4 separate regions of the Homo sapiens genome follow, and regions 1, 2 and 3 are each linked to region 4. Evidence: fine-mapped expression QTL. A gene starts in region 4. Each other region holds a variant in brackets. All regions are shown on one strand. Distances are between the middles of the regions.

Region 1 (5,146 bases), 400 kb after region 4:
CTCACCCATGTATCTAAAATAAGTTTCTGGGTAATGATTATACACACACATATGAATATGAGTTTCTTACCTCCCTTCAATGCATATCAAAACCTATGACATTTTTAAAGGGACCTAAAAAAAATCCAGAAGAAAACCCAGGAAAAGCTAGAGGAACACATAACAACACATCTGTGTTCAGTTAGAAAAACATGGGCTCAAAGAACCAGATCATTACCTTTCCCCCTCCTGCCTCCCGCTCCAGATGGGGGTGGCATGTAGCAATCTGGAATGGTAAAAATCGGTGCTCTCCATCCATGCCCCCAGGAGCGCTGCCTGATTGGCACTGTCTGTACAATTCTCTGTTATTTCCTGAAACCCTAACATAGTCTTCTGCTTATTTGAGTGAAACATCTCCTATTTGAAGAGCTACTGATAAGGAGTGGGTGGGAAGTAAAGGAGAATGAAAACATTTTAAAGTTGAAAGCATCAAAGAAAATTTAATGATACTTAAGAATAAGCTAGCCAGGCTCACTGGGTCACACCTATGTAATGCCGGCTTTTTGGGAGGCTGAGGTGGGAGGATCACTTGAGCCCAGGAGTTCAAGACCAGCCTGGGCAACATAGGGAGAGTCTGTCTCTACAAAATAATAATGATAAAATTAGCCAGGTGTGGTAGTGCATACCTGTAGTCCCAGCTACTCGAGAGGCTGAGGTAGGAGAATCGCTTGAGCCCGGGAGGTCGAGGCTGCAGTGAGCGGTGGTCACACCACTGCACTCCAGCCTGGGTGACAGAGCGAGACCCTGTCTCAAAAAAAAAAAAAAAAAAAAAAGAGAGAGAGAAAGAAAGAAGAAGAACAAGCTATGTACATGAAAACAAAAAAACTATCCATGTTGGTATATCTGTTGCCTAAAAATTGAGACCCCAGTATATGGCTGAGAGGGAAAGTTATCCAGTCTCTCATTCCCTCCACATCACCTGCCTTTTCCAAACCAATCTGCCAAACAGCAAGAAACCAGGGAGAACTCAGAACGAGGTGCCCAAACACACACCCCCTTATGAATATCCAGCTGCTTCTGCAAAGTCTGTACTCGACTTTGTGGGAAGCAACTCCTGGCTGTCCGAGAAAACGTTCTCATCTGCAGTGAGACTTTATGCTTGGCTCCTTGAACACTGAAAAGGACATTTAAGAAGGGAAGAAAGAGATACAGCTTACTGCCATACAGGATCATAAATTATTTTTCCTCTGCCTCAGGTGTTACAGGATTGGTGGGTATACCTGGACCTCCAGGTATTCCTGGGTTTGACGGTGCCCCTGGCCAGAAAGGAGAGATGGGACCTGCCGGGCCTACTGGTAGGTTGCGAAACTTCCAACGTAATTACCCTTGACCAGGATCTTTGGGATAGAAGGAGCAGAACCAGGCATGGGGAAACAGCAGAATGAAGTTGGATATATCACTTGACAGATTTCCGAAGAAGTCTGTTTCTTAGAAGAAATAGAATCAAATAGAAGAGCTGAAGAAGTGTTCTTTTTTCTGTGTAGAGACAGATATTGATCAAAGTGTACGTTTCCCAGATGTTGTTGAAAGGCAGCCAATAGTGGTGGCCCATGTGGTTTCCTAAGTGGGATGTGAGCTGCAGCTGTGAAAATTCTATTTCAGCAAAGGACAAGGGAAGTAGAAATGAAAATAATGCCAGCATTGGCCCAAAGGCATGGGATGAACTTGATCTGCTTCCTTAGGAGAAGGCACACTCGAGTGTCCGGTGAAGGCTATGATGCAAAAGGCTGAGGCCACTGACTAATTGAACAAAGAGCTCAGCCCAGCAGACCTGGGCACAGTTTGGCACGTGGCACAGTTAGAGAGGGGACAGAAGCAGGCCTTGCCTGCGAGGTCCCTTACTGCTCCATTTCCATACGCAGGCTTTGGGCTGCTATGGAGGAAGAAACACCTTAAGATGAGGTTGTTTAATAATTCTATGATAGTCCTCCCCAACAGGAGCCCCACGATTCCGTGTGAATGACATGCACAGAGTCACGTCATTCATTTATTTTCATTTATTCATATATCCATTTTCATATGTGTCATATATTCATTGAACTAAATTGTTCAAGCATCTGCTCTGCACCGAGAACTGTGCTTATAAAAATATCTTGAGGTGGCAGGTAAAAAGAAAAAGTTAAGACACCATGAAGGAGGTAGGCTGCTGTATTTAGTTAGCCATGCATTCTTTTTAGACTTTTTTGGTAACATGAATAGGTAGGATACTTTGTGGAAATATAAAATATTAAAAACTCTTTGGAGAAAATGATTTTGAAAGCCTTTAGGGGAGCGTGTTTGTAATTAGGGAAACTAATTTGTCTCCTATCTTCCAGGTCCAAGAGGATTTCCAGGTCCACCAGGCCCCGATGGGTTGCCAGGATCCATGGGGCCCCCAGGCACCCCATCTGTTGATCACGGCTTCCTTGTGACCAGGCATAGTCAAACAATAGATGACCCACAGTGTCCTTCTGGGACCAAAATTCTTTACCACGGGTACTCTTTGCTCTACGTGCAAGGCAATGAACGGGCCCATGGCCAGGACTTGGGTAAGAAGCCTGCAGATCCATGCATTCATTCAGTGTAGGTGTGTTGAGTGCCTTCGGTGTGCAGTGCTGGACTCGCCTCTGCTGCTGCAGTGAGGGCAGTAGCGAGTGAAACACTGCGCCATGAGGGCGGTAGCCAGTGAAAAAGCAGCCCGGCCCCATTTCCCTCCATTGATTACAAATAATCGGTTCAACAGCTGCTGTATTACTAATGGCAAGCCAAGAAATGTGGAGACTGA[A/G]TCTTCGAAAATCTTTAAATTAATAAAACTTTAGATCTCATCTTCAAATTATCAAGTAGGATCAAGATTCCTGGAGTGCACTTAACAATTTGCATTGATGCGGCTTAACCATTGCTCTTTGTAAAAAAAAAGGTCCATGTTATCCTGTCTGAAATTCTCTACAGCTGCTGAGCTCTGCTCCTCTAGTTTAGATCAGCAGAAAGCTACATATCTGTCCTCATTATCTTAATCTGACCCAGATATCCTCCACCAAACTGTGTTTTAATTTTCTCTGCCTTTAACTTTTATCAGGGTTAGAATCAGCAAGCTGCTATAGAAAGAGCATCTGCATTTTCTGCAAAACTGTTGTGAAAGACATTGCCCAATTTGTTACTATCCATCGTATAACGAACCATGTGTTAAGTTCCTTCTAGAATTCAGCTTTAGGAAAAGGTTTCTTTGTGCTGGTAAACTGGTTTTGTTTCCTTTCATCAAAAATGTCCTACATAATCCTTTATACATTTCCATTTCAGTGATTATGTTGATTATATGTTTTTGCTTGTTGTCCAGCTGAAATCCACTTTACATAGAGATAGATTGTGAATTATAAAGGAAACATCTCACATTGTCTTCTTCCTTGTCTAGGCACGGCCGGCAGCTGCCTGCGCAAGTTCAGCACAATGCCCTTCCTGTTCTGCAATATTAACAACGTGTGCAACTTTGCATCACGAAATGACTACTCGTACTGGCTGTCCACCCCTGAGCCCATGCCCATGTCAATGGCACCCATCACGGGGGAAAACATAAGACCATTTATTAGTAGGTGAGTCGAGCATCTGTAGGAACAAATGCAAAATTGAAGAGGAAAAGTCTCTAGTCTGGACAAGCATATGTTTTCTATTTTTCTCCAAAACGTTGAATCCATTGCCATTTAGCTTATTATTTGTGATATTCGAGTTTTGTAATGGAAATCTACCATAAAAATTATTTGACATAAAAGTCAGTTGGCTGGGCACAGTGGCTCATGCCCGTAATCCCAACACTTTGGGAAGCCGAGGCGAGAGGGTTGCTTGAGCTCAGGAGTTCAAGACCAGCCTGGGCAAGATGACGAGACTTCATCTCCACAAAAAATACAAAAGTTAGCTGGGCGTGGTGGTGTGAGCCTGTGGTCCCAGCTACGAGGGAGGCTGAGGTGGGAGGATCACTTAAGCCTGGGATGTTGAGGCTGTAGTGAACTGAGACCACACCACTGCACTCCTGCCTGAGCAACAGAGTGAGAACCTGTCTCAAAAAGAAAAAAGAGTCAGCTATTCTCTTTTAAAATTGTGGTGCAAAACCATGGTGAGATAATGCCAGGCTTGCAGAGATAATTTATATTTTGCCTGACTCACTGTGGTGGTTGCCTTTCCTCCTGTGAGCAAGGTGATGCCACTCGATTCTTCAGCAAGCGTTGGAACAGTGTTGCTCAATCTTTCTTTTTAAAAAGTAACAGCTTCCCCAAGGAGCCTTTTAAGACATTGTTTTCTGAATCATCCCTGCCCCTATGAATTTTTTTTTTTTTTTTTGAGACGGAGTCTCGCTCTGTCACCCAGGCCGGACTGCGGACTGCAGTGGCGCAATCTCGGCTCACTGCAAGCTCCGCTTCCCGGGGTTCACGCCATTCTCCTGCCTCAGCCTCCCGAGTAGCTGGGACTACAGGCGCCCGCCACCGCGCCCGGCTAATTTTTTGTATTTTTAGTAGAGACGGGGTTTCACCTTGTTAGCCAGGATGGTCTCGATCTCCTGACCTCATGATCCACCCGCCTCGGCCTCCCAAAGTGCTGGGATTACAGGCGTGAGCCACCGCGCCCGGCCCCCTATGAATTTTTTTAAAAGTTATTTTTAATTTTGGTAAAATGGACATAACATAACATTTACCATCTTAATAATTTTTCAGTGCACAGTGTAGTGGCATTAAGTACATTTGCAGTGTTGTTTTACCATCACCGCCATCCGTCTCCTGAACTTTTTTATTTTCCCAAACTCAAACTCTGTCCCTGTTAAACACTGACTCCACATCCCTCCTGCCAGCCTCTGGTGACCCCCCATTCTACTTTCTGTCCCTGTGAATTTGACCCCCGTAGACACCTCATGTAAGTGGAATCATACAGTATTTTTCCTTTTGTCACTGGCCTGTTTCACTCAGCATAATGTCCTCAGGGTTCATCTATATTATAGCATGTGATAGGATTTCTTTCCTACTTAGGGCCAAATAATATTTCATTGTGCATAGGTGCCACGTTTTGTTTCTCCATTCCTCTGTCACTGGACACTTAGGTTTTGTCCACACCTCAGCTATTGTGAACAATGCTGCTATGAACATGG
Region 2 (5,146 bases), 28 kb after region 4:
TTCCTGACTTTCGGTGCCTGTCTAGGGGGAGGCCATCCACCTGCCGCCCAGTCCATGCTTTAGTAGGGGTCTGAGTCACCAAGTTCCACAAAGTGGGAGGGCTTCAAACAGCAGAAGCTCATCCTCTCCCCATCCTGGAGGTAGGGTCTGAACTGGCGTCGGCAGGGCCGTGCACCTCAGGAGGCTCCAGGGAGAGGCTGTTCCCGCCACTGTCCAGCTCCTGACTGGTGCTGGCCGTCCTTGCCTGCGGAGCTGTGGCTCTCATCTCTGCCTCTGTTTCCCCATGGTCTCCTCCCCGGGGGTCTGCCTTCACATCGTCTTTGCCCCTGTGTCTCCGGGTGTCTTCTCTAATAAGGACACCAGTTAGATGTGATTAAGGGTCTGCCGTACTCCATGTGGTCACATTTTAGCTAATCACTTCTGCAGAGACCCTGTTTCCAAATGAGGCCACATTCATGGGTGCCAGAGATGAAGACTTGAATGTATATTTTTGAACCCATAATAATACATTTATGATTCCATTTTTAAACAGAAAGTGCTGTTTCCTGCCCTCTGGTTCACCTTCAAGGAGAGAAATGAAATCCATTTCTGTGTTGGAAGGCCTTGCGCGGCCGGAGCTTTGGGTACTGCTGCTGGGCTGAGAGCATGGTGTGGTCCAGTGGGCGCTCAGAGGCGCTGGGCCAGCCACTGCGTGGAAGGCCTGGGCCCAGCGTGCCGGGTGTGTGCGGTGCTTCACGGCTGCCTGTGAAAAGTTAGTCACTGCACAGGCATTTAATGGAAGGGCCCAAGCTGTGAGGCACTCAGAGCAGGCAGGAGGAGGAGAGGTGGAATCTAGGGAATGGGTTCCAATCTCGCCAGTAGAGTCTCTGAGCCTTGACTTGTAGATCTGCGAAAATGGAAAACAGAGACTTCCCAGAGTGGTTTAAGGATCCATGAAGACGTGACCCACGAAGTGGTTGTATGAATTAGCCTCATGTGTTATTTATTCGTTTCTGTAACTTCACGCCTCCTTCATGCCTGTTCCAAGCAGCCCGTGAGTGTCTGCTGTGGTCCAGGAACTGTACCTGGTGTTCAGGGTGGGTTCGGGTTGGGGGTCTCCGGCTCTGAGCAGAGTCTGCTCTGTGCCATCCAGCATGGTAGCCACTGGCCACACGTGGCTTGGACTTAGAGATGTGGCTAGTTCTAGGTGAGATGTGTGCTTTTCAAAATGAGGAAGAATTCTGAATTTAAATTTCTCACTACATTCTCCATCTCTGCCAGTAAAAGATGTTCCTGGGCTGGGCGTGGTGGCTCAGGCCTGTAATCCCAGCACTTTAGAAGGGCAAAGCGGGGGGATCACTTGAGCTCAGGAGTTTGAGACCAGGCTGGGCAACTTAGTGAGACCTCATCTCTACTAAAAATTAAAAAATTAGCCAGGCGTGGTGGTACACACCTGTAGTCCCACCTGCTTGGGAGGCTGAGGTGGGAGGATCGCTTGAGCCCAGGAGGATGAGGTTGCAGTGAGCCATGATTGAGCCACTGCACTCCAGCCTGGGTGACAGAGCGAGACCCTGTCTCTGTTTCCACAAAAAAATATTGCTGGATATGTCTTCTGCTCTTCGTTTTGGAAATCATATTTTTCCTATTTTACTGTTTAGTTGCTGAACAGCTGGCAGGAGAGGACTTGTGCATTTATGATGAGGTCCAGTTTTGTGGAGTTCACACTCTTTTGAAGCCTGCTAGGAAGCCCCCTGGGGTGCACAGTAGAGGGTGTTCATATTGGATCAGCATTTGGAAAGATAACTGCCCGGGCAAGGAACCCTCAATGAAGAAGTGACCAGTTTGGGTCAAAGTGATCCTTGCAGTTTTCTGAAAAGCCCCTGTCATGCCACTTCCCCTGCCCTGGACATTTGTTTGGCTGAGGGGCAAGGCAGGGGTCGGGGCGTGGTCGGCACCCTTGACCGGCACACTCGTACATCACGGTGGCAGCACCTCTTTGTAGGGGCTCGGCCTCAGGGGACAGCCTGAAAATGGGGGAGCTGTACAGGCCTCTCTGGAGAGCCTCAGCTTTGCAGACAGCCTCCATCCCAGGGAAGCAAGTGAGCAGTCCACGTGAATAAGGCAGCCAGGCTTCCCCAGAGAAACAGACCTGACAGAGGGTG[T/C]GTGAGCTCAGGCAAGGTTGCTTTGTTGCTGTCTGGGGGCTGAATTCCTTCGTGTCTGGAAGAGCTCAGTCTTTACTTCTCAGGCCATCAGCTGATTAGACGAGGCCTACCACATCACAGAGCACTGTCTGCTTTCTCACATCCACTGATGTAAATGCTGATCCCACCTAAAAAACACCTTCCCAGCCATGTCCAGGCTAGTGCAGGACCAAACTGCTGGGCACCGGGGCCCGACCAGATACAGTTCCCCATCACGGTGGGTGGAGGCTGGCAAGCCATTGGCTCTCTGGAGGCTTTGGTGCATGTGGGTTCTGGGGGGAGGGCCTGCCCACTGCGTGGGGCCCTTGCCTGCTAGCTCTCCACTTTCCACGTACTGGTGGGGGCAGGTGTGTCCAGCCAGGCCCTGTGCTGGCTCCAGGCAGCCCAGCTCCATTCATGCACCCAGGGACTCTTGTGGGCCTTCCTTACTGCACTAAAATCAACAAACAATTGAATACAGTGTTGGTTATAGTAGTCAATTATTTATTCTTTTCTAATGCTCCTGAGGGGATGGTTGCTTCCACATCCCATTCTCTCTTTTTGAGATAGGGTCTTGCTCTGCTGCCCGGGCTAGAGTGCAGTGGCAGTATCCCAGCTCACTGCAGCCCAACCTCCTGGGCTTAAGCGATCCTCCTGCCTCAGCCTCCTCAGAGTAGCTGGGACTACAGGCACATACCATCATACCCAGCTCATTTTTAAATTTTTTTTTGTAGAGATAGGGACTCACTGTGTCACCCAGGCTGGTCTCAAACTCAGGGGCTCAAGGGATCCTCCCACATCAGCCTTCTGAAGTGCTAGGATTACAGGTATGAACCACTGTGCCTGGCCTCCACGCACCATTATTTAACCAAGTTCACTATCGGTTTTAAAAAAACAAACCTAGAGGGAATGTAGATCATGCCTGTGGAGATGGTCCCATGACTCTCAACTTTAGCCAAAACTCATCAACTTTACAAAATAGAACTAAAATAACCTTTTGGCTCGTATTTGTGGATGCAACCTGCAAACACTGGAGAAAGCATGTCGTGGTGTTTTTGAACAATCTCTGATGGGAAGTGTGTCACAGCTCCTCTAGGCTGCGCTGCTGCTGGTGCCATTGCTGGAGTTGCTTATTTTGCTCCCATCTCTGGTCTGGGAATATGCACTTTTCCTTTCCTCAGGTTGTCACATCGATGTTTTGTGAGCTCCCTGCCAGGGGGCTGTCCGATCTGGCAAGGCAGAGAACTCATCTTAAAAGTTTCTGTTCTCCGCTGGGCACAGTGGCTCATGCCTGTGACCCCAGCACTTTGGGAGGCCAAGTTGGGAATATAGCATGAACCCAGGAGTTCAAGACCAGCCTGGGTAGCATAGTAAGTCCCCATCTCTACACAAACATAAAAGAAATTAGCTGGGTGTAGTGGTATGCACCTGTGGTCCCAGCTACTCGGGAGGCTGAGTTGGGAGGAACACTTAAGCCCAGAAGATGGAGGCTGCATTGAGCCATGATCGTACCACTGCACTTCAGCCTGGGTGACAGAGCAAGACTCTGTCTCAAAAAAATAATAATTAAATAGGCTGGGCGTGGTGCCTCGCGCCTGTAATCCCAGCATTTTGGGAGTCCAAGGTGGGTGGATCACTTGAGGTCAGGAGTTTGAGACCAGCCTGGCCAACATGGTGAAACCCTGTCCCTACTAATAGTACAAAAATTAGCTGGGCTTGGTGGTGTGTGCCTGTAATCCCAGCTACTAGGGAGGCTTAGGCAGGAGAATTGCTTGAACCCTGGACGTGGAGTTTGCAGTGAGCTGAGATTGCATCACTGCACTCCAGCCTGGGCAACAGAGCAAGACTCTGTCTCAAGAAAAAGTAAATAAATAAATAATGAAAGTTCCTGTTGTCTCAGTGTTTGCATTTCCTGGTAGGGCTCACTTTTCAATGAATTGAAATACCAAGCTTTCTAATTCTTACATTTCAATAGCTGCCCTTTTATTTCCCACTTTCACTGGGTAAATTGCTGATTTTCACTCCTGGTGCACCTGGTATTCACCTGGGGCGCTTTTAAAGCTGATACAAATGCCAGCCCCACTCTTGCCCTGGCAGCTGGGTCAGGGTCTGAGCATCAGTATTTTTTAAGTCTCCCCACCCCATGCTTAAGATGTGAGCCAAGGGTGTCCGTGGCTTCTGATGGCTATCTCAACCCACTCTTATTTAAACCAATAGTGAAAACGACACAACACTTGGGGTAGAAGCCTGGCTGTGTTTGGCTTTGGGAAGGCTGAAGAGTGAAATGGAAAGCACTTGGGCAGTTTTTGGTTCCGCAACAGTGAATCAGGATTACTGTGGGTGCTGACTTCCCTTCCCCTTCTGCCTGAACCCTGGGCCATGTCAGCTCCACTGATCTGGCAACATCCGGAGCACCCCCAGGACCAGGGAGAAGGTCATCATCTGAGAATAAGAAACGTAGAAGATTGGTCCACTGCAAAAGCGCCCAGTCGGCCCCAGGAGGTGGTGTGTAAATGGAGGGATGATGAGACCCGGGACATGGGCAGCCCTGGGACGGTGGCATCCATCCTTAGGTTTGGGAGGAATCTCACGATTTATGGAACAAGCACTTCTATTACAGGGCCTAATGTGCTGGGTGCAGCTCCAGCCAGTTCACCTGTGTGCAGATTCTGCTTTCTCAGCCACCCTTTGGCAGGTGTAACCCACATTTTAGTGACGGGGAAACTGAGGTACCGCATGTCTAAGTGACTTGCCCAAGGTCACACGGTGGGGATTTGAATGTAGTCTGTCTCTAGAGTGGGGGCTGTTTACCAGAACGCTCTGCAGTCCCTGCCCAGCGAATTAGCCGGCACTTCCAGGATAGTTCTCTGCGTAAAATTTGGAGCTCCTGGGAAGGTGGCTGCATTCTGCAAATGCCTGTGCTCTGTGGGATCACAGGGTGGAGGCAGGCTTTTCTCCTGCCCAGCAGCCCACCTCAAAGGGGCCCT
Region 3 (5,146 bases), 41 kb after region 4:
CCGGCCGCTGAGCAAATGTGCTTTGAGACCAGCGCCAAGACCGGCTACAATGTGGACCTCCTGTTTGAGACCCTCTTTGACCTGGTGGTGCCAATGATCTTACAGCAGAGAGCTGAGAGGCCGTCACACACAGTGGATATATCCAGTCATAAGCCACCCAAGAGGACCAGATCTGGGTGTTGTGCCTGACTTTCGAGGGCCTCCTGGACTCAGACTGTGCATGTTGGGAAGGGGTCTGACCAGGCAAGCTGTGATCTGAAAGGAGCAAGGAACAGCAAGGAATTATTTTCCAGAATGACACCCGCAGCAGAATGTTGGAGTGGAAATGATGGCTGGCTATGAAGAGGAGGTCAACGTGTGTGGTCTCCTCAGTCTCTGTCAGAGGGGTGGGGAGGTGGGAAACAGGAATCCTCTGCAAAGCCCAATCTGCAGAGTCGAGACCCCTGGTGCTCTCTGCCCCGCTGCCTGGCACTGGTCCTTTGCAGCCAGCCACCAACGGCCCCCTTGCCCTTGCAGAGGCAGAAGCCTGCGTCTGCACCTGCACCTCTGACCGTTTCAGCACCCTGGGTTGTTACCACGTCCTACAACTCTGACATTTCTTGTTCTCAAGCGTTTCTCTTCACTGTGAGTTGTCTTTGGTCCTCCCACTTGGTACTTGTATCTTGATGCTTTATAATCCTGACTCTCGACGTGTTCATTTATACAAAATCAGGAATAACTTTGTTTTTATACTGATTGCAGCAATGTTGGCTACATGTATTATTAAAGAGGATTTTTGGAACAACTTAGGTATTGAGACTGAACTGACTTCATTTGCACCCCCAGTCCCAGGGACTCTCTGTGGGGTAGGGTGGGGGGCGCTGGGGAGATGGCTGTGAACTTGAGATACGTCTCTCTTTGTGCGGAAGCTCTGTGAAATCCTTACCAATTGCAGAATATTTAGATTGGCCCATCTGTCTAGTTTTCTTGATGACTTGAATTCCAATAATAGTAGCAAAGCTTAAAGCTCTGGTTCTGCTGAAGTCTGGGGCATCTGAGCACCCAGGTCTCTGAGTCAGAAACCCCCTTCGGGTCTGCTGCTGCTGGCCGTGGGGTGGCTGCTTTATTGGAAGATGTCAGACAGAGGTGCCAGGAGACAGCAGATTTGTTTTCCCAGAAATGTGACTGAACGAAAGCAGGCTGGGGTCGGGGCTGTTTGTTGGGAGGCAATGTGGGGCAGATGGCACTGGGCAGTGGGTTTCATAAGTGCTGTTTTCTTTCTTTTTTTTTTTTTTTTTTGTGATAGGGTCTTGCTCTGTCACCAGGTTGGAGTGCAGTGGCGTGATCTTAGCTCACTGCAGACTGTACCTCCGGGTTCAAGCAATCCTCCCGACTCAGCCTCCCAACATGCTGGGATTACAGGCATGTGCCACCATGCCCCAATAATTTTTTTTTTTTTGGTAGAGTTGGGGTTTTGCCATGTTGCCCAGGCTGGTCTCAAACCCTTGAACTCAAGCAATCCTCCCTACTCAGCCTCCCAACATGCTGGGATTACAGGGTGCTCTGTTTTCTGGGGAGCTGTTCATAATTTGCTGAAGGCCTGTGCTCTCCGGTTTCTGGGCTGCTGCAGGCCTAACTTCTCCGCTCCTGTGGAGTGAGTGCTTTCAGGCAAGGAAGGGAGCTTGAACCCCAGGAGGAAGCACTGAGGCAACCCCTGCGATTGCAGGTCCTCAGCTCCCCTGAGATGTGGTTTCGGAGTTTAAAACTTCAGTTTCGCAACAGCAGCCCATTGAGAAGTGAACGCAAATCAGCCTGACTCGTGACTTTTTATTGACTTGGTTGAATATACCACTGTAGGGACAGAAGTTATATTTATTTTCTATAATGTGTATCTTTGCTAGTGACCCATCTAGGAAATAGGCTAATCAAAGAGACCTTGGAATCTTTTTTTTTTTTTTTTTTGAGACAGAGTCTCACTCTGTTGCCCAGGCTGGAGTGCAGTAGCACAATCTCAGCTCACTCACTGCAGCCTCGAACTCCTGAACACAAGTGATCCACCCACCTCAGTCACCCGAGTAGCTGGGACTACAGGGGTGTGTCAGTATGCCTAGCTAATTTTTTATTTTTATTTTTTGTAGAGATGAGGTCTTGCTGTGTTTCCCAGGCTGGTCTGGAACTCCTGGGCTCACGCAATCCTCCTGCCTCAGCCTCCCAAAGTGCGGGGATCATAAGCATGAGCTC[T/C]GGCCCTGGCCAGAGTCTTTCTTTGAAGGCTGTGAAGGGAGAGAAAGTATCATATGGCACTGTTTTTGCAGTTGGTGCTTGAAGGCAGGGAGGGCTGTATGAATGCCTGAGGCCCGTTCTTCCTGAACAGTCTTGGATTCGATTTCCCATCTGCTCCGGGCACCCAACAGCTTGTTTCCTCGAGTGGCCGCGTGCTCCGGGGATGGTGCCCATGGGTGGCACATTCTCCATCAACTCTGTTTAAGCATTTCATCCTATATGTGTTGTCCTAAAAATAAGCATCCCTGTGGGCTCCTTTTAAATGAGTTCCTCTGGGCAGTCGGCGCTGCAGTCTCTCCTATGCTAGCAACTTCCAGCTGCCCTTACAAGTGCTTTTGTAAGGGCATGAGGGGCTCATTAATTCAGCACATCTCACTGAGCACTCTCCACGGCCCTTCCTGGAGCTGAGCTATTGGGACAGTTTCAATGACAGTGCCGCCACAGGCCCCCTGGCACCCTGTGTCCTGGGCTGCATTCCAAGTGGACCTTGGATACCAGCCTGGCTCCTCGCTGGGGAGCCTGGTCTTGGGTCCTACTCCCCCACCCTCATCTCATGTGGCCTCTGTTTCCTTCCAGAAACCACGTCAGTTCTTGGAAAGCTTGAAATCCCTCGGTTGGGCAACTCAGCTGTTGGCGCAGATTTCCCCACTGGGTGTGGGTTTGAGCTCGTGACCTCGAGCATCCGTCTTTCCTTTGTACAAAGCGGCCACTCCAGGGAGGAGATGAGCAAGTGACGGTCCAGGGTTCATGGCTGTGTGTGGTCTTGGAGCTCCCTTCTGCACTTTCCAGCTGTCCATGTCCCCATGCAGATGAGAACCCTTTCCTCAATGACACCTCATAACCAGGTATTTCCTAGTGCCCTTAAAGCCTCGTGCCTGGCAGTGGTGTCAGGGAGTCCTGGGGTTGGGTATGTGGTAATCTGGGTGCTGTCAGTCAGAATGTCCCCTTCCCCAGGCTCCCAGGCCTAGTTTCTTAAAGAGTATGACGTTGCCATTTCTGGACCCAACTTCCTGGTTTAAACAGCCCTGCTGTGCCAGGAAAACAACCTCACATGAATGTTCCCAGCACATAGATCACCCCAGCACACGGGTGCCCCCCAGTACATGGGCCCCCCCCAGCACATGGATACCCCCAGCACACGGGCTCCCCCACCAGCACACGGATCTCCCCAGCACACGGGTTCCCTCCCCAGCACACGGGTTCCGCCAGCACATGGGTCCCCCCAGCACCCAGGTTCTCCCCAGCACACGGGTTCCCTCCCCAGCACACGGGTTCTCTCCCCAGCACGTGGATTCCCCCAGTACATGGATACCACCAGCACATGGATCCCCCCAGCACATAGGTCCCCCCAGCACACAGGTTCTCCCCAGCACACGGGTTCCCTCCCCGGCACACGGCTTCCCTCCCCAGCACACGGATCTCCCCAGCACACGGGTCTCCCCAGTACATGGATCCCCCCAGCACGTAGGTCCCTCCAGCACACAGGTCCCTCCAGCACACGGCTCCCCCCCAGCACACGGATCCCCCCAGCACACGGATACCACCAGCACACGGGTTCCCCCTCCCCCAGCACACAGATCTCCCTAGTATACGGGTCCCTCCAGCACACGGGTCCCCCTAGCACACGGATCCCCATAGCACACGGGTGCTCCCAGCACATGGATCCCTCCGGCAGAGGTGAGCTGCTGCTCAAGGCCCATGAGACAGACCCCATGAGACATGGAGATGGTGCCTGTCTTCCAGAGAGAAGGGGCAATGGCTCTGAGCTCGGCCTTCACTCCGTGCTCCTGGGAGACTCTAACCAGGCTGAGTCCCTCCTGAGCAATGACCACAAACCTCTGAAGAAGGAAGAAGAGTGGGACCCGGGCCCCAGAGACCCTGGTGGGAGTGCCGTGGTGTGGCCTCCAGGTGTTTGGAGGATTTCAAAGGCACAGATCCTCCCAGCCCTGGTTGGTGGAGTCCAGGTCGTATCTTCCCTTCTGTGGCCAGGCAGAGTGGCCGGTGCCCTCGTCCTCTTACATGCCCTTATTAGAAGCACAGACTCTTCTCCACAGTGTGCAGGGGTCTTCCATCCTCCCACTTCACAGAGCTGGATCTTTCGAGCCTCATTGTCGAAACAGGACAGAGAGGATGGGTGTGGTGGGTGGACGCACAGCTGAGACCCTGCTCACACAGCTGAGACCCTGCACACACGCACAGCTGAGACCTTGCTCACACAGCTGAGACCCTGCATGCACGCACAGCTGAGACCCTGCACGTGCGCACAGCCGAGACCCTGCATGCATAGCCAAGACCCTGCACGCACAGCAGAGACCCTGCACGCACAGCAGAGACCCTGCACACATGCACAGCTGAGACCCTGCTCACACAGCTGAGACCCTGCATACACAGTCGAGACCCTGCACACACGCACAGCTGAGACCCTGCTCACACAGCTGAGACCCTGCATGCACGCACAGCTGAGACCCTGCACGCACGCACAGCCGAGACCCTGCACGTGTGCACAGCCGAGACCCTGCATGCATAGCCAAGACCCTGCACGCACAGCAGAGACCCTGCACATACATGTGCCGCCTGCACTCAGCCTCCTCTGTGCCTGCTCTGGAAGCTCTTGGGCCCAGTCCTCCCTTGTGGTCCAGGCTGCCTCCTTCAGGGAGAGCTGACGCCTTCAGAGCAAGCGTCCTTGCGTGGTTATGAAGCTCTGTGTCCCTCCCCTTCACTTTGTGTTTGCCTTGAAGCCACTGGCCCAGCCCTCAGGTATCGGATCTGGAGGGCACCTTGCTGGAGGATATGTGGACCCAAGGCCCGAGAAGGTGCCTCCTGGGTCAGGGTGTCAGTGGCCGGAGTGAGACACGCCCAGGCCTTGGCTCCCAGCCCCACCCACTTC
Region 4 (5,146 bases):
ATGAAAGGTTAGTCTGACAGTGATTGGGACGGCAGGAGCTTGGAGTTAAGGAGACCAAATAGGAGTGGATTCTAACTATTTAGGTGTAAGAAGGTTCCAGACAAGTGGGCGTCTGTGGGAAAAGAGAGAGAAGATGTTAGAGGGATTTATTTAGAAGGGAAAATCCATTGGGCTTGGTGATGAATTGGATATGGTTATAAAGAAGGTGAAAGAATGAATGACTCTGCATTTACAGAAGGGCAGATGAACGATGTGGTGGGTTGCCATATTGAGACATCCATGTAGAAAGGCTTAGTAGGTGGATGAAGAAATGGACAAAGAGCTCAGGTGAGAGAAGCAGACAGGGGGTAAAATTTGGAGAATCAAAAAGCATGCTCCAGGAAGTGATTAAACTTCCTGATGGTAAAAAAGTAGAAAGAAGTGTAAAAATTCTAGGTGAGCCTTGAACACCCGCTGAATAAATGGAGAGGTATACCATGTTCATAAATGGGACATTTTAATATTATAAAGATATCCACTCTTCCTAAATTTAACTATATATGTCATTAATGTGTTTCCTGAGGTTAGATACATTGATTCCAGAATTCATATGGAAGTGTAAATGTTCCAGAATAGTCAAAGCAACTTTGGACTAGGACTACAGGTGCACACCACCATGCATGGCAAATTTTTTCTGTAATTTTCATAGAGACGGGGGTCTCCCTATGTTGCCAGGCTAATCTTGAACTCCTGGGCTCAAAGGATCCATCTGCCTCGGCCTCTCAGAGTGGTGGGATTACAGGTGTGTGCCACTGCGCCTGGCCAACAGGCACCAAACCTGACTCATGTTTGTGTCGTCCCAGGCCAGGCACTGTAGCTTGTGTGAAAATTGTCAGAATCGAAATGGAGCCGCTAATGTTAAGAAAACCCTGACAAACAGAGCCGGGGAAGGCCATGAAGAGAGGGTTCTTGCGCGTGCATGCCTGATAACAAAAAGGACTCTCTGGAAAAACCGCAACCTTGCACAAAGGCCACTGCAATCTCCCACAAAAAACTAGTCCTGCAAGGACATGGCCCAGCCACTGGCTGTCCTACTTTGAACTGGCATCGCCTTCGTTATGGATCTTTGTAGCCACAGATAATTATTTTCAAACAATTGTGCAATCCGCCTCATTTTTTTTAAAGCCTTTGCTTTCCTTGCCTCTCTGAATATGCACAAGTTTACCATGGCATGCATATTTCTACTGCAAAGCTCTATTGCAAAATAAATATCTGTTTCTTTTAGAGATCCTCTCTGTTATTTAGGTTGTCACTTGCATGCAACAGGCATTGAATAAATGCTGAATTGACTTAAATTTGTTCTGAGGATGAGGCAGTGCTGGCTGAGAAGGAGCCGGGGTCTCCTGGTGCGCTTTCCACGCCCCAGAAGGTCCGCTTCCACCTCAGCCCCACACTGCTCGGTCTCAGCAACCTGACATGCCAGGGCTGAGCAGGTACGAAATACCTTGGCATTCCTGCCTTGTCGGAGTCTCAGGGCACCTACGAAGGAGGCAACGGGCCTATTTCCCTTTACAGGACACCTTCAGGACACGGGTTTTAACCTGCTCAGGGTCTCATCGCCTTTCCCAGCCAGGCCAGCGGCCAGAGTGACACTGTCCCCCAGGGTTTAACTTAGAGTCCATTCTACCTCTCATTTTCTCTAAAAAACCCCAACCAACCAACTAACCAAATTCTACACGCTGCATATTTTAAAAGCATTTCAAGGTTTATCCTTTAAAACGGAAGGAGGACCTGGGAGGCCGAAGCGGGTGGATCACGAGGTCAGGAGTTCGAGACCAGCCTGGCCAACATGGTGAAACCCCGTGTCTACTAAAAATACAAAAATTAGCCGGGCATGGTGGCACATACCTGTAATCCCGCCTACTCGGGAGGCTGAGGCAGGAGAATCGCTTGAAACCGGAAGGCGGAGGTTGCAGTGAGCCGAGATCGCGCACTGCTCTCCAGCTTGGGCAACAACAGCAAAACTCCGTGTCAAAAATAAAAAAAAAAAAAAAAAAAGAAGGAGGAAATATTTCTCAAGTAGCGACTGCAACTTCCATAGTCAAATTTTCATTCCAAGCTATAAATGGAGATGACTGTCCACTTTTCAGGACAAAAAGCTTCTTGCAAAAGTAGAAGAGCAAAAGCAAAATCCTCCACTAGAAAGCGCCCCCATCTCTAATCTGTAACAGTGAGAGCCTCAGGACGAGTTCCGCAGACGCTCATTTAAAGCAAACTTTTTCAATGACCTTGAGGGTGGCTGTACTTACACGCGGAGAAGCAAATCGACCGCAGCTGGAAAGGCGCTGGGTCGAGCGTGAGAGGAACACGGGTTTTACCTAAGGGAGAGTGGAAGAGAGAAGGGGGTTCCCCAAGGGCCCCGGCCCCTTCGCCTCGTTCGGGCCCCGCGGCCAAGCTCCTCGCACCGCAGCCCCGGCTGTGCAGAAGCGGAGGGGCGGAAGGTGCTCTCAGAACTTTCATTTTCCACCCTGCAGCAGTCCCGAGCCTCGGCTGGAGAACTCGGATGCTTGCGAAACGGCGAGGTCCAGCAGGGGCGGGACGGGGGCGGTGGGCGGAGGAGGATAGGGCGGGGCCGCGGCGGTGAAAGGGCCCGGGGGCGGGGGCGGGGGCGGGGCGAGGCGAGGCCGCCGCGGTCCGGGCCCCCGACGTGGGCTCCGTGCTCTGCACCCAGCTCCTTCCCGGGCGCGCACACGCGCTTCCTCTCTTGAGCTCCCGGGCGTCCGGAGGCGAAGGTCCCGGAGCGTTCACGAGAATCCGGGTCCCGGCGAGTCCGGGGTCCGCTCCTCCAGCTGCGCCCAGGGCGCACGAGCCGGCCAGCCTCGGGGAGAGGGCGCGGGGGCGCTGGGGGTTCTTACGGGAAGATGAGGAAGCCCGACAGCAAGATCGTGCTCCTGGGGGACATGAACGTGGGGAAGACGTCGCTGCTGCAGCGGTATATGGAGCGGCGCTTCCCGGACACGGTCAGCACGGTGGGCGGCGCCTTCTACCTGAAGCAGTGGCGCTCCTACAACATCTCCATCTGGGACACCGCAGGTGAGGCCGGCGCCGCATGAGCCACACCGCCCTGGGGCTCCGCCGGGGACGGGGGGCGCGGGGCTTCCAGCAGGGCACCCGGCCGCGCACAGGGTCCCGGCCTCGGACAGCAAATGCCTCCTTCTCGGGGTTTCCCACTCGTCCTCCCTTGCTGGTTGGGCTGAGCGCTGCCTCTCAGCCACTCAGTGACCTCAGGGACAACCCAAGTTGCAGAGAACCCGCTGGTCATTTGTGTACCTAAGCTGCCTTTGCTCCCGAGCCCCGCGTTCCTGCTCTGCCGCCCTGGGAACCAGAGACGCTCCTCTGTGGCTGCTTTGTTAGGTATTTTCAGTTTTCACGTACCCGTAGGAACATGATATCCTTTGAGATTCACTTGAGGGGTGAGCAGAGCTGGTGTTATTAGCCCCTTTCTAAGAAAAAGTAAAATGAGGCACAGAGTGTTCCCCCCTGTTGGGTTTAGTCAGGAGAGAGGAAATAAAACTGGAGCCTCCGGACCTCTTAGCCCGGAGCATATCTGCCTTTTACAGTTAATCTTCTGCTTGATCTTGGCTCAGATACGTCATATGGGTTTGGGTTGGAGTGACTTCCGGTGGAAGCATTTTTAAGATAGGTAATGAGTTATTTTTATTGTGTAGTATTTGTGACTTTTCAAAAGTACAACTTAGAGGATCTCAATTCAGGCTTTCTGTTTAACTTTGGAAAATAACACTGGTGATTGTAGCATTGCAATGGAATATATTTCCTTCTCCTTACAAAAGAATAAGATATTGTAAGTGAATGAAGAAACTGGAAATAGTGTGACACATTTTCAATGAGTGTGAGTTTTTAGAAGCCTGAAACTCTGAAAGTTCTGACTTCTTTTATGTTAGCATCTTAAAAAGTCATATACCCAAAGGCCCCGTCCAGAATTCTTAAATTGCCATCTTGGGTGTATCAGTATGCTGAATAAACAAGATGATAATGAATTCTCTCTTTAAAACTGAATTAACGAAGCTCACAGAGGTACTTCCAGTTCTCCCCCTCCCTTTTGCCTTCTTTGATGCTTTTTTATTATTATCCCAGTTAACATCGTGACTAATTTATTGGCAATCATCTTGTGAAAACAATGTCCCCCAGGTAAAGAGGTGCATTTCCCTGATCTTTGCTCCAACTCTGTCTTCTGCCTCAGGCTGCAGGATGAGGTTTACTGAGCTGACTCCCTCACACTGAGCATTTGGTAACGATGGAACACACGCTCTAGAAGTCAAATCGAACCCAATTCACGAACCCAATTTGCTTCTGTACAAAGTCAAATTGAACCCAATTTGGTTTTGTACAAAGCTTTGCCCCTCTGCTGCTTTTGCTGGTTGGCTGGGATTTACTGCTGCCCTTGGTTTACAAGTAGCAAGGTTAATGCAGGAGTGTTATTGGGGGACCCTAACCGAAACCCCTGTAGTGGCCACCGTTGGAGGCAGACTCTTAACACACGGTGTGTTTCTGGAACAAGAGCTGCCCTGCAGTGCTGGAACGGCCCCTGCATCGGAGGGAATGAAGCAGCAGTTTCGTTTCCACTGGCCTCTTGCTTCTTCAGCACCAAGGACGTGATGCAGCCGGAATCCTGATCACCAGAGATTTTGCAGTTGTGCTGATGTGACGCCCCAGATGTCTTGAAGCGTTACTGGGGGGCAGCAGCTCATTTCCTGGCATCCGAGGCTGCTGCTGCTTGTTCGAAAGATCCTAAGGGTGAATTACTAGAGCTCCTCAGAACAGAGAGTGGCCAGGCCCCTTCTCCACATTCCTGACTTCCTGTGTACACACTCAGGCGGCCCTTGCCCAGAGTTGGCAGGGACACAGGGCACCCTTGCCTGCCTCCTCGGTGGCCTGTGGCCTGACCGGGTACTTGAAGGGAAAAGAGAGGTAGGAACAGATACCTTTTCTATAATTGTTGGAAATTCAGAATTTAACATTTAGGGGACCCTGTTCTTTTCCTTCTTTTGCTGAGCTCCTAAACTTTCTCTCCACCCCACAGACATTGCTTTTCAAGTTGTTTTTGTTGTAATTGTCATAACCGAGGCAGAATGGTAAGGACCAGCCG

Evidence for each region. PIP is the estimated chance that this variant, and not a neighbour inherited with it, causes the effect. A credible set is the group of variants that fine-mapping cannot tell apart.
Region 1: its variant is the best candidate, but not a certain one, in a credible set for the expression of RAB20 in whole blood (TOPMed, PIP 0.67).
Region 2: its variant is the best candidate, but not a certain one, in a credible set for the expression of RAB20 in whole blood (TOPMed, PIP 0.66).
Region 3: its variant is the best candidate, but not a certain one, in a credible set for the expression of RAB20 in whole blood (TOPMed, PIP 0.72).

Annotation. Positions count from the first base shown.
Region 1 is chr13:110,159,651-110,164,796 of GRCh38, reverse strand. COL4A1 (collagen type IV alpha 1 chain) reads left to right here. Exons shown (of 52, transcript NM_001845.6): 47 at 1,236-1,334; 48 at 2,355-2,567; 49 at 3,428-3,605. Among named protein-coding and RNA genes, the nearest start is that of LINC03082, 33 kb to the right of the region's middle. The variant A/G (reference allele first, on the strand shown) is at 2,804.
Region 2 is chr13:110,531,263-110,536,408 of GRCh38, reverse strand. All of the region lies in intron 1 of RAB20 (RAB20, member RAS oncogene family), which reads left to right. Among named protein-coding and RNA genes, the nearest start is that of COL4A2-AS1, 26 kb to the right of the region's middle. RefSeq lists enhancers at 1,431-2,213, 5,035-5,146. The variant T/C (reference allele first, on the strand shown) is at 2,142.
Region 3 is chr13:110,518,708-110,523,853 of GRCh38, reverse strand. RAB20 (RAB20, member RAS oncogene family) reads left to right here. Exons shown (of 2, transcript NM_017817.3): 2 at 1-788. The coding sequence ends at 189. Among named protein-coding and RNA genes, the nearest start is that of COL4A2-AS1, 13 kb to the right of the region's middle. RefSeq lists an enhancer at 1,919-1,998. The variant T/C (reference allele first, on the strand shown) is at 2,221.
Region 4 is chr13:110,559,274-110,564,419 of GRCh38, reverse strand. RAB20 (RAB20, member RAS oncogene family) reads left to right here and starts at 2,698. Exons shown (of 2, transcript NM_017817.3): 1 at 2,698-3,072. The coding sequence starts at 2,901. RefSeq lists silencers at 2,569-3,018, 2,910-3,099, 3,079-3,138.